Homo sapiens: one gene and its partner. The protein of the gene in region 1 purifies or fractionates together with the protein of each later gene. This does not show direct contact. Each region holds a gene or a part of one and is shown in the gene's direction. Other genes may lie near its edges.

Region 1 (7,487 bases):
ACTCATCTGGCATCCCAGAAACTCTCTTTCCCACAGAGCTGATTAAGAACCATTGCTGGGGAACTAGTGTGGTCATTTGGAGGTAAGACGACACTCTGGCTTTTTGAGTTGCCAGAGTTTTTGTGCTGATTCTTTCTCATCTGAGTGGACTGATGTTCTTTTAATCTTTGAAGTTGCTGTCCCTTGGATGGGCCTCAGCCTCCAAAGTAACTGGGACTACAGGCATGCACCACCGCGCCCAGCTAATTTTTGTATTTTTATTAGAGACGAAGTTTCACCATGTTAGCCAGGATGGTCTTGATCTCTTGACCTCATGATCCGCCTGCCTCGGCCTCCGAAAATGCTGGGATTACAGGTGTGAGCCACTGCACCCGGCCCGGTTTTTTTCTTTTGCATTCTTTGATGCCCTTGAGGGTTTGACTGTGGTATCAGTTGGGTTCAGTTGACTGGGCTTTGTTTCTGGAAGATTTCAGAAGGCCAAGGTTCAGTTCAGTTCAGCACTCCTGGGCTGCTTGCTCTAACCCTGGAGGCCTGGTACCAGGCCCATTGCTTTGTTCTCCGGCCCCTTGAGGTTAAGCACCCGCTGTGCTGGTGAGGTGGAGGTGTTCCCAGTCTGCTGGCAACAACACCCTGCCAAAGCACTTCATCAGAGCAGTGGCAGCAGGATCTGTGCTCATGTGAATGCATGCTGGCAGCTGTGGTGGCAAATCAATATTGACAGTTTTTCTAGTGGATTGTCTTAAATTTCCCTGATAGTTGAATAACTATCTATAAATAATGACCAATTTATGTTCATGGATTTATCTTTTATATGAATTTTGCCCTTTGTTTGAAGAGAATATTGTTAACATCATGTTTCTCTCCATACAATTTTTTTAATTTAAATAGACAAATAATAATTGTATATATATATTTTTCTTTAATTTTTTTTTTGAGACAGAGTCTCATTCTGTCATCCAGGCTGGAGTGCAGTGGTATGATCTTGGCTCACTGCAACCTCCGCCTCCCAGGTTCAAGCCATTCTCTTGCCTCAGCCTCCCAAGCAGCTGGGATTACAGACACCCAGCACCAAACCTAGTTAATTTTTGTATTTTTAGTAGAGACAAGGTTTTGCTATGTTGGTCAGGCTGGTCTCAAACTCCTGACCTCAGGTAATCTGCCCACCTCAGTCTCCCAAAGTGCTGTGATTATAGGCACGAGCCACTGAGCCTGACCTAAACTTGTATATTTTTATGGCATACAATATAATGTTTTGATGTATGTTTACAATACACACATCAAATACAATCAAATTAATTAACAAATCCATCACTTCACATACTTTTTTTTGCATTAAAAACGTTTATTTTATTTTATTTCATGTTTTTAGAGACAAATTCTTGCTCTGTTGCCCAGGCTGGAGTGCAGTGGCATAATCAGGGCTCACTGTAGCCTGAAACTCCTGGGCTCATGCAATCCTCCCACCTCAACCTCTTTAGTGGCTGTGAATACAGGCACCCACCACCATGCCTGGCTAATTTTTAAAATTGTTTATAGAGACAAGGTCTTGTATGTTGCCCAGGCTGGTCTCGAACTCCTGGCCTCAAATGATCCACCTGCCTTGGCCTCCCAAAGCGCTGGGATTACAGGTGTGAGCCACCATGCCCGGCCAAAATGAGAAGATCTTAAGCCAACCAGGGAAGGAGTAGAGCAGTCATCAAAAGTACCACCTATGAAAACTAGAAAAAGCCCCGAGCAGATGTTAAGAGCTACAGGAATGATAAAAATATGTGGGAAGCAATCCTCTTTCAGATATACACATCCTTCCTAATGGAATATACAGATGAAGGCCAAGCCCACATCAGGAAAGCTCTGTTCAACAGCTATGGAAAATTCCTCACCCATCTGTCATCTGTAAGAACCTAAATTCGTGTCCCTGGGTCTGCAGTCTCAGAGACCATGAGCTGGGTTTCCTCCATTTATTTCAGATAGTGGGGGTGTATCCAGGTTTCCTTAGACAGTTGTGTGTCACTTAGTGACTGGGACACATTCTGAGAAATGCATAGGCAATTGTCATTGTGTGAACATCATAAAATGCAGTTATACAAACCTAGATGGCATAGCCTACTGCACACCTCAGCTATTAATAGGTAAGCCTGTTGCTCCTGGACCACAAACCTGTACAGCATATTACTGTTCTGAACACTGTAGGCAGTTGTAATACAATGACAAGTATTTGTGTATCTAAACATATCAAAACAGAAAAGGTGCAGTAAAAACACAGTATTATAATTTTAGGGGACCCCTGTTGTATGTGGGGTCTGATATTAACTAATATGTCCTTATGTGGCCCATGAATTGTAGTTCTGAAAATCAGTGATTTTTTTTTTTGAGGGGTTGGCTGTGCTTTAAACTAGGAACTGGTAATGATCCATGAAATGTATGACAGGTGGGACAAGGTAATAGTAGTCAACATTTATTGAGCGTTTACTACATGTCAGACCTTGTTAATTTTTTTTTCTTTTTTGAGATGGAGTTTTGCTCTTGTTGCCCAGGCTGGAGTGCAGTGGTGCCATCTCAGCTCACCACAACTCTGCCTCCCTTGTTCAAGAGATTCTCCTGCCTCAGTCTCCTGAGTAGCTGGGACTATAGGCACATGCCACCACACCCAGCTAATTTTTTGTATTTTTAGTAGAGACGGGGTTTCACCATGTTGGCCAGACTGGTCTCAACCTCCTGACCTCAGGTGATCCACCCGCCTCGGCCTCCCAAAGTGCTGGGATTATAAGTGTGAGCCACTGCGCCTGGCCAGACCTGGTAAATTTTACACACACACACACACACACACACTCATTTGAACATCTATCAACCCAATGATGTAGGCACCATTTTTAACCTACTTTTACAAACGAGAAAACTGTGTTTACATAAACTAATTTTCAGAGGGTTCAATAGCCCATAGACATGGATCTGAACCCTCCTAGCCATGGGCTTTGCCACTGGACCTTCCACTCCTTAGGGTTGGAGGCAGAGGTGGCATCAGGGGCTTCCCCACCATTTTGGGTGATGGAAGTGAGAGGCATTGTCGCCCTCAGCTGGGACTCAGCCAGACCTGCCAAGGTGTCTCTGATGACACAGACCATAAGGTCCGCTTCCTTCATAAAGGTCTTTCTGGGTGGTTCTCAGTACTGCTGCCCATCAGACCCACCAGAGCAGTTTAAACAGAAGAGGACCTCGCCCTAGAACTACTGAATCAAAATCCCCAGAAAGGGAAGCAGCCTGCGGGGAGTCAGTATAGTTTAAGAGCCCCAAGTGATTTGATTGCAGAGCAGAGAATGGAAAGCTCTGGCCTGGGCTGTGACTGTTCTCAAATGTGTGTTCACTTAAGAGCCAAATTTCTGGTGATTTCCTACTCACCAAATGATGGCACTGCAGTGGAAGGGCAGAAGGGTGTCTATTGCTTTTGCTGGGGATGGCCTTCGCTTTCCATCAACAATGAGATGACCCAGGCAGCAGAGCTGGGTTAGAAGTGGAAAACTTGAGCCCAGAGGTTAGAGGGAAGTGACCACCCACCCTGTTCATCCATCTCTTCCTTTCCATTATCGTCCCTGCCTAGAAGCGAAGACCAGTATTTCTGATGCCTGTTTGCCTCCAGACACCCCAGCAGCTCCTTGGGTAAAAAAAGTTGGGCAATTTAATCATCCCATCAGCCCTATGAGGAGATATGGGTGGCTAGAGGTCACTGGAGGCTTGCTTTTAGTAGACAGAAAATTTGAACCTGTGCTATGTTGACAACTCCACCCATAAATAAAGACACAGATCTTGGAGTGAGACAGAGTAGAGGACAGGGGGAGTGGTTGTTTTCCCCAAGGAAATCCTCCAAAGGTGGGGTGTATGCAGCTATGTTTTAGGTACCTATGTGGTGAAGATGGTGGGGATGGAAGGGGCTGAGTGGGAGGATAGGTCTGGTTCAGACTTGATCTATGTGCAGCTGAAACACGTGTGGCTGATTGTCAGACATGCAGTGGAGGTCAAAGTGGGGTCTCTTCTGTGCCTGCTCTCCTATAACCAAACCACAGCCCCTAGCTTCCTGCACCCCCGGTTTCTGTCCTCCTGAAATGAGAACTCACATTTGCCCTTGCACTGACATAAAGAACAGAGAGATAATCCTCAAAAGCCCAAAAGCAAACTGAGGTTCCAGGGAACATTGCCAGAGGCACCTGGACACTCACCTGGAGCACAGAGCAGAGTTTCTGCAGGGCTGCCCTCCCGTGCTCCGCCCCACTCAGGATGCAGGGAGGTGTGGGGATGTGACACTGATGGATGGCAGCAGCCCTGGCTAGGAAGGGAGGGCTGGAAGCCAGGCCTCATCACCTGCCAGATGCCCATGTGGGCAGGACCAGCCAGGCTCCCTAGGTACAAATAGCCCTGGGCTCCACGGCTCCACAGGCTCCCGGGGCTGAGTCTAAATCACTCATCATTGGTTAAAGCCGAGCTCACAGCAGAATAAGCCACCATGAGGCTGTCGGTGTGTCTCCTGCTGCTCACGCTGGCCCTTTGCTGCTACCGGGGTGAGTACATCAGTCATGAGTCCAGCACCAGCCCTTGGGACACACCCTTCTCTGAGCACGAGGTCACCTATTAAGGTTAAGGTTGGGGTCTGGAACAAACCAAAATTCCAAACCTTATCCTGTGCTTGTTGAAGGAACTGCTCATAAAGCTCGGGCCTCATTTCATCAAATCCCCAGTACCTAGGAAGTTTTGCAGAAAATCAATGCAGGCGAACGTTAGGAATTCTGCCTGAGCTTCACTCTTGGATGGGATCTGTGTCAGATGATGTAATGTGAGGTCTGGGGTGACTCTGGGCTCAGCCACTTCTCAGCCCTTTCACCGTGGGCAAGATGCTCACCCTCCCCGCGCCTCCTCCTATCTCTGGTGCTTAGAGCTTCTTCCGGGAGTGGCAATGGGAATGGAGTGGGATTATTGTGCCAAGGGTCTAGCTGTGGATGTGAAGCCAATCACTGTACTGTCAGACATTCTCGTCCCCAGACCTTTAGGTGCCAATTGAGCTCACAGCTTCTTACATTGTAAATTCAGACTCATAAAATGTTACATCTCGAAGGATCCTTGGAGAACTCTCAGTCCAAGAAGAGATGGTGCTTTCTGATTCTCTCAATAAGAAGCCTGCAAATGAATTCTTAGAATAAGCAGCACTCAATATATCTTCTAGGGGTCCTACCGTAATGGTGGTAGAAATACTACAATGGTTAGCCTCAGAACTTCTATTTTTCTAAAATTAATTCTGGCTGATTTTTCCCCAGTTCATTTGGGTACTTTCCTTTCCCCTGTCAGGACCGATCCAGACTCTGATTTTTCTCTTTCCTCTTCTTTTCTGAACCTCTCCCTGTTTCCCTGTGACACCCCGATCCTACCCTCTCCAAATTCTCCCCACAGTTTGAAGTCGGGTAGTCAGGGGTCATGTTGAGCATGGTGGGGCGCTTTCTGGATGCATGGTGTTTGCAAAAGACTTAGGTGAATGGAGATTCCAGACCAAGCAAAATGATTACTCCAGGTCTTTCCAAAATTCCCAGTGGGAGCAGGAATGAGCCTCAGTTCCCTCCTCTCATCCTCTCCAAATATTCTAGATGCTGCTGCAGAATATGGGCCAAGTACAATTTCCTGTATAAGCTTCTAATGTGTGTTAAAACTGATTCACATTATTTTATTTTGTTTTAATTTGTTTACCTTTTAGCTCTGTCTGTATTGAATCACATAAGCCTAAATTCTACAACTTGTTCTCAAAACATCACCTTCAACATTTCAATAATTTTAACTTCTTCTGTTCCAGATTTACTCATTTCTCTAATTTCTGATAGGATTCTGACTCTACCATTCCACTTCAAAATTTGATTACTCAAAGCCTCCTCTTCACCAATGTCCAAGACTAATAAAGTGTCACTTAACTGGCATAGAAAAGTGATTATTTTCAAATCTAGAAAAGAGAACGTTGGCCATCCATCCAGAGAAGCTTTGGAAAGTAATGAGTGTGCTTTAAAAAAAAAACAAAGACTGAATGAGTGATCAGGAAGTTGGTTCTCCAGTTCTAGCTCTACCCTTTGCTGTGTGACCTCAAGGAAGTCACAACCTCCTGGGTCTGACATTGTCATTGGCATAGTTATTGAATAGAAGCCTAAAACCCTGGGGTTCCTGTCTGGTCTGACATCAGGGAGGCATGGGAGAAACACTGATTTCCTTACACAAATTATATTTTTATTCTTTTGCTCCAGCAAATGCAGTGGTCTGCCAAGCTCTTGGTTCTGAAATCACAGGCTTCTTATTAGCTGGAAAACCTGTGTTCAAGTTCCAACTTGCCAAATTTAAGGCACCTCTGGAAGCTGTTGCAGCCAAGATGGAAGTGAAGAAATGCGTGGATACGATGGCCTATGAGAAAAGAGTGCTAATTACAAAAACATTGGTAATTTCTGTCTCTTTCATGTGTCCAGGCTTCTGGTCAGCGGCACAGTGTGAAGTGAGGTCAGCTTGCTTGCTGCTCTGTGAGGGACACAGGTGGTGGGGCACCTGCCTTACTGGTCACCGCTTGAGAAGGTCACCTGGGACCACAGGGTGGGTGCTACCATTTCACCTGCAGAATTCAACTCAGCTGCACACAGCCTCCTGCATGTTCCTCCTTCTCAGGTCACCTACCTGGATGCCGTGTCCCCAGAGTGTGCTGAGGACATGGGGAGTGAGCCTGGGTCCAGGCAGGGGTGGTGAAGGGCCAAGCACAACTGTCTCTCCACCTGGGGACTTTCCTGAGGCCAAGTGGACCTCACACAGTCACTGTGGAATGTACTGGGGAGTGTGGGAGCCTTGAACAGGGAGAAGAAGGCAGGGAGGGACCTAGAGCAGGGGCTCCTGCAGATGCTGCGCTGGAGGGCTGGACTTCTCTGCAGCTTCTGCAGAACCAGGAAGGAGCCCCTCCCAGCTCCTCAGACTCCACGCTCCCCTCCTCACCCACGATGCTCTCCTGACCACGGCCAGTGGGCCAAGACCCTCGCTACTCTACCTCCTGCAGTGCCATGGAAGCGGGATGTTCTCACTCTGTCTTTCTCAAGAAATCAGAGGTTTTCCAGGGGCCTCTCAGCCTGGCTGCCTCTGGGTTGCTGTCCTGAGGTTTAGCTGCAAATGCTCATGGAAGCTGCAGGCTCAGGATTGAGGTGCTCAGGCCCTGAGGCAGAATTCCCACATGGGGAGGCTGGAGTCTCCTGGAAGCCAAGCTTCCCAGAGGCCCTCCCAGCCCTGACCAACCTCTCAGCACTGGGTCTTTCATTGCGGGGAACAGGAGACTCCAAGTCCTGGGACAGCCCAGACAATAACCTCTTGCTGCTCTGCTCTGTCCCCCCTCTATGAGGACCCTGGGCCTTATGCTTGTGTCCCCCCAGGGCTATTGGCCTGGCAAGGAAAGGCTGGTCTAGGTCTAGGCCCTGGTTTCCCACACACACTGGGTT
Region 2 (7,612 bases), on another chromosome or scaffold:
TTGCATGTGTGTGTGCTTGCATGTGTGTGTGTGCTTGCATGTTTGAGTATATGCATGCGTGTGCCTGTGTGTGCATGTGTGCTTGCATGCGTGTTTGCACTTGTGTGTGTGTTTGCATGAGTGTATGTGTGTGTTTGTATGTTTGAGTGTGTGTGTGCGTATGTGTGCACATGTGTGGAGGCATTTCATGTGTTAAAAGATGCCACTAGAGGGTCTGAGCAGAGGGGTCTCCCCAGCTGTCTATTAGATCCCTGTGGACCACAGTGTGGAGAGCAGAGTTGGGAGGACTGCGCTGGCAACTAAGGGTCCCCATGTCCTCCAGGCAGGAGGTGACAGAAGCAGGGGAAGTGAGACAAGGATGGGTTAGGAATATTTGGCAGTGGTGGTGCCAGTTCCAAAGTGGGCTCAGGCAGGAATCCAGATGCCCCCCCAACCAGCTTTGAACCCAGTGACCAGGGATCTGAGGGCCATTCCCCAGAGCTGGGGGTGCCTGGATCCTCCCCATCTCCTTCCTCACCCAGTAGCAGTGGGGCTGCCTCAAGGGGAAGGAGATCCCAAGTATACTTTTGCAGAAAGCTCTGACTCGTACAAATGCAGAACAGTCCCCAGAGCTGCCCCAGGGGCAGGAGCATGGGAAAGCACCAAAAGAAGCTCCTCTCCAGACCCCCCTGAAATGGAACCATGTTCCTAGGAATCTCCTGCACTACTCTACAAACTCCCCAGCCCTCTGAGCTGCCGAAGGCAAACAGAAGCTAAACCAACATGGGAAACCCAGAGGGAAGAGCCCAGCAGCCTGCTGAGTCACTTCCCCTCTATTTGATGTGGGGTCAGGAGCCCCAAAGTCACAGACCCCGGCTCCAACCCCAGCTCCTCCAAGGTTGCTCACCTCCAACTTCTCTGTCTGCATTTGGGGTGCTGCAGTCCCTCCTCAGAGGGCAGTGTCAGGACCCAGTGTGGTCACACCAGGAGCTCAGAGCTAAACAGAGGGCAGCTGCTGCCGGGGCCAGACAAGAGCCGCAGGGGCTCTAGAGCCTGCCTCACACAGCCCATCCATAGCAAGAGGCACTTGCCTCTGTCCCCACAAACTGCCTGTGCAGTCTTCTCCCCACCTTCCTGTGGCGGCACAGCCTTTTCCTTATTGACTCTTGGGAGTTCTTTATATATTCAGGATACACATCCTTTGACAATTAGATGTGTTATAAGCCATCTCTTTCTAGATCCTGACTTGTCTCATTATTTCATTATTTATAACTTTTAATGAGCAAAAGTAACTAATTTTAATGTAGTCAAATTGACTCATATTTTCCTTTCTTTATTTTTTTAGTATCTTGTTTATGAAATCCTCCCCTAGCCCAGGGACAGGAAGCGAATCTGCTCTCTGGTCTCCTAAAAACCTTAGAATTTTCTGTGTGGCGCTGAGACCTAGGCCACCTGGAATCCACAGTTGCTCATGATGGGAGAAGGAATTCCAGGGCATAATGAGAGGGTCACATGAGCAGATTCTCACTGTGATGGCTTTTGCTGCTGCTGTCTGGGGACTGGACAGAAAGGTGTTACCAAGTACAGCAGGCAGAGCAGAGAGGAGGTGCTCCTTCCTGAGGAGCCCAGAGTGGGGATGGAGGGAAGTGGAAAGTTCTGGAATATATTTTTGGGAAGAATCCACCAGGCTGAGGGATGCAGGGGACATGGGGAGCATGGAGGTTCCCAGTAGGGCAACCTGGGGGATGTGGCATGTTTCGCAGAGATGGGGAAAATGAGGGAGGCACCTGGTTAACCAGGAGCTTGGTCCTGGACACGTAGACTCCAGCGGCCCTGGACCTTCCCAAGACGCAGCTGGAGACAGGGGGCTCTACCACAGAGGAGAGGCCTAGGCTCTCCTGGGCACCGTGAGTACAGAGCAGGAAGCTCCTTGAGGAGTGTCTGCCTTGGGGCAAAAGGGCGGGAACAGGCAGACAGCAGGGACAGCCCCTGGTGCTGGTGACAGGTGGCGCAGACAAGAGCTGGTGAACATTCCCCGAGGTCAGCCATGGTGTCCACACTCACTGTGTCCCTCACCACAGCTCTGCAAGCTCTCACGTCCATTTCACAGATGAGGAAATCGAGGCTCGGAGAGCAGTCAGGACTTGCTCTGCCTTCACCAGCCATGAGGATGGATTTGCGCCCACACGTGTGCCTCGGTAGTCCGTGAGGAAAGAAAGCGCTCCAGTCTTGTTTGCCAGGGAAGGGAGGGGAAGTACAGCCCAGTGGCTGGGTCAAGACCACAGACTGGAGAAGCCAGACTCCTGGGATTAGCCTCCCAGCCCGGCCTCCTATCCACTGGGGAACTTGAGCACGTCTCCAGCCTCAGCCCACCCATCTGTAGAAGGTAGCAGAGCCAGCACTGTATTAGTGCTTGGGAAATAAAATAATAAATATAACTTTTGAGGAAGATGTTCTGCCTCATTCAGGGACATGTAAGTTAAAACCACAATGAGGCTGGGCATGGTGGCTCACACCTGTAATCCCAGCACTTTGGGAGGCCGAGGCGGGCAGATCACTTGAGGTCAGGAGTTTGAGACCGGCCTTGCCAACATGGCAAAACAAAAATTAGCTGGGCATGGTGGCACACGCCTGTAATGCCAGCTACTCGGGAAGCTGAGGTGGGAGGATCACTGGAACCCAGGAGGTGGAGGTTGCAGTGAGCTGAGATCGAGCCACTGCACTCCAGCCTGGGCGACACAGTAAGACTCAATGAGGCTGGGTGCCGTGTCTCATGCCTTTAATCACAACACTTTGAGAGGCTGTGGTGGGAGCATCACTTGAACCCAGGAGTTTGAGACCAGCTTGGGTAACATAGAGACCTCATCTCTTGAAAAAAAAAAATTAGCCAGGCATGGTGGTGCCCATCTGTAGTCCCAGCTACTCAGGAGGCTGAGGCAGGAGGATGGTTTGAGCCTAGGAGCTTGAGGTTACAGTGAGCTCTGATTGCACCACAACATCCCAGCTTGGGTGACAGAGCGAGACCCTGTCTGTCTCTAAAAAAAAAAAGCAGACAAGCAAAACCACCTAGTTGAAAAACCAGTTCATGCCACTAGATTTGCAAAACTAAAGAGTGCCAAATATTGGTGAGGATGTGGGACAGCCAGACCCTTCCACACTCCTGCTAAGCTGCTGGGAGTGTAAACTGGGGCTGTCACTTGGGAAGACGGTTTTGCTGTATCTCCTGAAGCTAGACAAATCCTACCCCGTGACCCTGCAGACCGTCCCTGGATCTAAAGGTGCCCACCGAGAGGCACACACAGGATGCTCATCACAGCTTTGCTCATCATGGCTCCAGATAGGCGACAATCCCATGTCCATCGGCAGGAGAATGGGCGAGCAGGAGCCCAACAAAACAGGCTGCGAAGACGATGCCTGCGAGCAGCTGCCCTGTGCCCTCACCACACAGAGCAGACAGAGCAAACAGCACAGGCTGAGTGACCCCGTTTCTGTAATGCCCAGAACAAGCCACCCAAAACAGCGTCCCATTCTGGGGTGCAAATATAAGAGGTCACACCCAAAGAAAAGCACTTAAAGATGAACACAAAAATGAGGGTTGTGGCTGCTCCTGGGGAGGGAGGAGCGGGGTGAGACGCGGAGGGACACCTGGGCCCGGTATGAGTCCATTCCCTTTCCCTGTTAACCATGTGAACTGTAGAGAGTTCCTCTTCTGTAGGGGTGACGTGATTCACACAGCAAAAACCGCACCCCTCAGGCTACAGATGGGGGCCAAGTCCCCAGCCGGGACTCAGCCCTCCCACGACGGGGTTTTCCTGGCCCATCTGCTCTGTTATCGATGCTCCTGTTGCCGGCTTCCCCTTCCTTGGCCTGGTTGCGTCCACCGGGAGGCCCTCCCGGATGCCTCCTGCCTGGGAGTGGCGGTTGTGAGTACAGTAACTGAGTGCTGGGTGTCTGCCCCTCAGCCTTGCCATGCAGGCTGGGGGTATTGCCTGGACAGCTCTGGCCCGTCACCCTGGATTCTGCAGCCCCACACCTCACACCGTGTAGATCCGCTGCCCCACGCTACAGCCGGAGTTCGCGTCTCGCCACGCCTCTGCCGCGGGACTTTCCTCCCTGGGCTGCGTCCCCAGCCGGGAATGCGCCACCAGCCTGGGGCCTGCAGGGGGCGCCCGGGCTCCCCGCGCAGGTGCCCGCCCATCTGACAGAGCGGAACGCGCGAGGCCGAGAGCTGGGAACACCCGGCCCCGCAAGGTCTGGGAACTGCGATTGCCTCCTTCAGCCTCAGTTTCCCCCCCCGTGAAAGGAGGCCATGCTCCTAGCCTGGGCACACTGAGCCAGGCCCTGTTCCTGGGGTCGCGGGCTAGCCCGCTCGAGAGCGGGGGGCTCCCGGAACTGCCCGCGCGGCCCCGGCGCCCAGAGAGTTGAGGCGGGCAGCCGTATCGCCCTTTGAAGACGCGCGGTGGGCCCCTGCAGGCGCGCGGCGCGGGGCAGAGCGCCCTCTGGAGGCCGCCGCCGGCCCCGCCCCCGCCCCGCCCCCGGGCTCTGGGCGGCGCATGCGCGCGGCGCGGGGCTCCGCGGGCGGCGAGAGCGAGGCCGGTCCGCAGCCGCGCGGCGCTCGGCGCCCCATTCATGCTGGGCATCGGCTGCGCGGCCACGCAGCGGAGCCCGGGCGCGGCGGCGGCCTCGGCCTGGGCGGCCTACGCGGCTTCGGCGGCCCCGCGGCGGGGCGGACGGCGGCGGCGGCGCGGGCGGCTGGGCGCGGCGATGGCCGGCGGCGGGGCGCGCCCCGGGGCGGCGGGTGAGTCGGGGCGCAACTTTCCCCGCGGCGCGGGACGGTGGGCGGGGGCCGGGCCGGGCTGGGGTCCGGGGCCGGGCGGCCCGTGGGTGGGCGCGGGGCGGCCTCCGGCGGCGGCCCTCTCGTGAGGCGGCAGGCAGGGGGTGTGCGCGGGGACTGCGGCGCGCGTGGGGACTGCGGCGCGCGTGTCCGCGGCCCGCGTGTCCCTGCGGCTCCGGCCCAGGCGTCCGCGTGTGTCCGGGCGCGGTCGCGGCGCCGACGCGGAGAGACCGCACCCCCGTGCGGCGGGGCTGGGACCGCGGCCCGGGATCCAGCGCCGCGGCCTCCCCCGCCCCCCGGCCGGGCCCGCCGAGCCCCGCGGCAGCTCCGGGGTGGCGGGGGGCGGGCGCTGCCCCTCCACGGAGGCTGGGGAGAAAGTTTGCGGCGGCCCCGCGGGGAGGCCCCTGCGGTGTCCAGGCCCGTCCCGGCCGCTGGACCTCGGCTCAGACCTCTGGCCGCGGGCGAGGACGGGGTGGCCAGGCCCGGATAGGGATCGGAGCCTCCCAGCAGGGCCGCGGGGGCCGGAGGAGGTCGTGCAGGCTAAGCCCCCGGCCGGCCCTGGGGCGCGGGGTGGAAGTTGGAGCGGCTTCCCGACCACAGCTGCCACCGCTCCCACTGGCCCGGAGTGCGGGGAGGTGGGCTCTGGGTGCCGCCCAGGAGGCCGCCCCGCTCGGGCCTCCTTGGCCTCCCCCTCTCGGGGCCTCTCCAGGGTCAGCCGCTTCTCCCGGAGGCTTCCGATTGCTTCCTGGATAGTCCCGGGCCTGATGTGCGGCGAAGCTGGAGGCAGCGGGCCGATCCCGGGCTGCCAGGGGAAGGGGGAGTGGGGACTCCAGGGAGGCCCCTCGGTCGGCGTGAGGTCCCAGGTGCAGCCCTGGAAAGGAGGGGAGGGGCTCCGAGGGGCGGCCCCGGGCGGCGATCTGCCCCAGGCTCCTGTGTGGGGTTCTGGGGCCACGCCCCTTGAAAGAAAGGGGTGTGTGTGCCGGGGAGGGGACGTGGTCGAGCCTCTGTCCCCTCAGCGCGGCTCCTGTGGCTCAGGCTGCTCCGTGCTGCCCCATCTCCTTTCACACGTAGCCGGTTTGGGGGTCGGTGCAGGGATGGGGCGCAGTTTCTGCTCCCCGGGCCCTTGAGGAGCTTGCCTCAGGTCCCCTCGATTTCCTGCGGCTTGGGGTGTGCGGCAGAGGCCAGGTGCTGCACCAGGGGCACCAAGATGCTGCCCGGCCCTTGAGGAGCACCCAGCCCCCTGCCAGAGGCAGGCATGTGAACCAGTGATTCGCTGCAGGGCCAGGCTTCCATTCCTGGGGGGTGCCAGTGGGGCCCAGGAAGGGCGTTTTGGGCAGAGGACAGCATGGGCGGAGGCCTGGGTTTGTGGCCTCAGTGTGTGCTCTGGGGGTGGGGGACACATGAGGTGCCTGTGGACAAAGCAGACAGCCCTTTGCTGGACTCCTGGCCCCCCAAGGTCGTTGCCTGCCTGTTTTGAGCCCCCAGGAAAGCCCCCGTGCACAGAGCAGCTTAGAGCAGCTGGCCGGGAGGAGCGGGTGCCCCAGGGGAAGGCCTGCAAAGGTAGGCACTTTTTCTCAGGAGCAGGACTCCAAGGCCTTCAGAGCCGGATCCCCTAGGACTGGTCGGGAGCAGAACCACTGGGACCACCTCCCATGACCCCCGTTGTGGGGGAGGCGGAGTGCCAGGAGCAGCTGTCTTCCCCCCCGGCTGCTGTTGTGAGCCACTGGGCAGGATGGCAGCCCCACACCCCAACCTGCCTGAGCCATAGCAGGATCTGGCGCAGGAGGACTTGGGGGGATTGGACTCTTCCTTGTGGGGAGGGCTTTGGGGGCCTTTGTTTCTCAGGGTGAGAAGGAGCTTTGGTGTCACTCAGGCCAGGAAAGGGAAGGGGACACTGTTGGCTTGGCGTTCCACCAGGCGGCGATCCCCTCCTGTCCAGGAGAGGAGCCCCTGGGCTGGGGCTCCTGCACGCAGACCGCGGGGTCTCTCTCCGCCTCTCTCTCCCTGGCTAGCCCCATCGGCATCCCAAGGCCAGTCTAGCCTCCCCTGCCCTGGCTCTGGCTCTGCCTCAGCCTAGAACAGCTCTGGCCATGCCGGAGAGCCACAGCCGTTCCTACTGCCCTCTGCACAGCCAGTGTTTCCCACCCCAGGCCTTTGCTCCTCCTGTTCTGCCCCCCACCCCCACCACGAATGCCCACCCTCCTGCACCAGCTCCCAGGCTACCTGGTCCTCTCTTGAGGCCTTTCCCCGGCCACAGTGGCCAGCTCTGCTCCTCGGTAGAGTGCAGCATCTGCCCATGCTCCCCTCCTAGCCCCGGCATGGGCCCCTGGCACCCTGGCACCTGGGCCCAGCTTTGGAATGAATGCATTTTTTCCTAGGCAGACCCAAGCCTATGAGAGTTGAGCCCTGCAGGCTGGCTGGCTGGTCCAGTCTCTGGAAGCTCGAAATTTGGGCCCTGCCCTGCTGGGACTAGTTGGGTGACCTTGAGTCTGAGCCCCAAGTCTTATACCCCTAAGGTGGAAGAAGTGGCCCAAGCATTGTCACTGGCCTTTATTAGATGCTGGGCATGAGGGACCCAGCCCTAGGCTCGGGGCTCCCCCTTTCTTGGCCGGCAACCCTGTGACCCCAGGCAAGTCCCTTCCCAGCAGACTTTGTTGGGGCAGTGGGGTGAGGGTGGAGTTTGGGGCGGTGGGCCCAAGACCAGGCTGGAGTTTGGATGGTGGCTTCTTAGCCTGGTCCCTCCTGTTGAATACAAAAAGTAGGGCCCATAATTGCATTAAGACGTGTATAATTATCCCA

Evidence for each region. The genes of interacting proteins can lie anywhere in the genome.
Region 2: the proteins of SCGB1D1 (region 1) and PLXNA1 purify together in Homo sapiens (co-immunoprecipitation; 3 studies listed by BioGRID and IntAct, with this or other methods). This does not show direct contact.

Annotation. Positions count from the first base shown.
Region 1 is NC_000011.10:62,185,790-62,193,276, forward strand, and holds the start of SCGB1D1 (secretoglobin family 1D member 1 precursor), read left to right. Parts: upstream 1-4,426; 5' UTR 4,427-4,495; coding exon 4,496-4,550; intron 4,551-6,266; coding exon 6,267-6,454; intron 6,455-7,487. UniProt on the Homo sapiens protein: May bind androgens and other steroids, may also bind estramustine, a chemotherapeutic agent used for prostate cancer. May be under transcriptional regulation of steroid hormones.
Region 2 is NC_000003.12:126,978,511-126,986,122, forward strand, and holds the start of PLXNA1 (plexin-A1 precursor), read left to right. Parts: upstream 1-4,604; 5' UTR 4,605-4,777; intron 4,778-7,612. UniProt on the Homo sapiens protein: Coreceptor for SEMA3A, SEMA3C, SEMA3F and SEMA6D. Necessary for signaling by class 3 semaphorins and subsequent remodeling of the cytoskeleton. Plays a role in axon guidance, invasive growth and cell migration.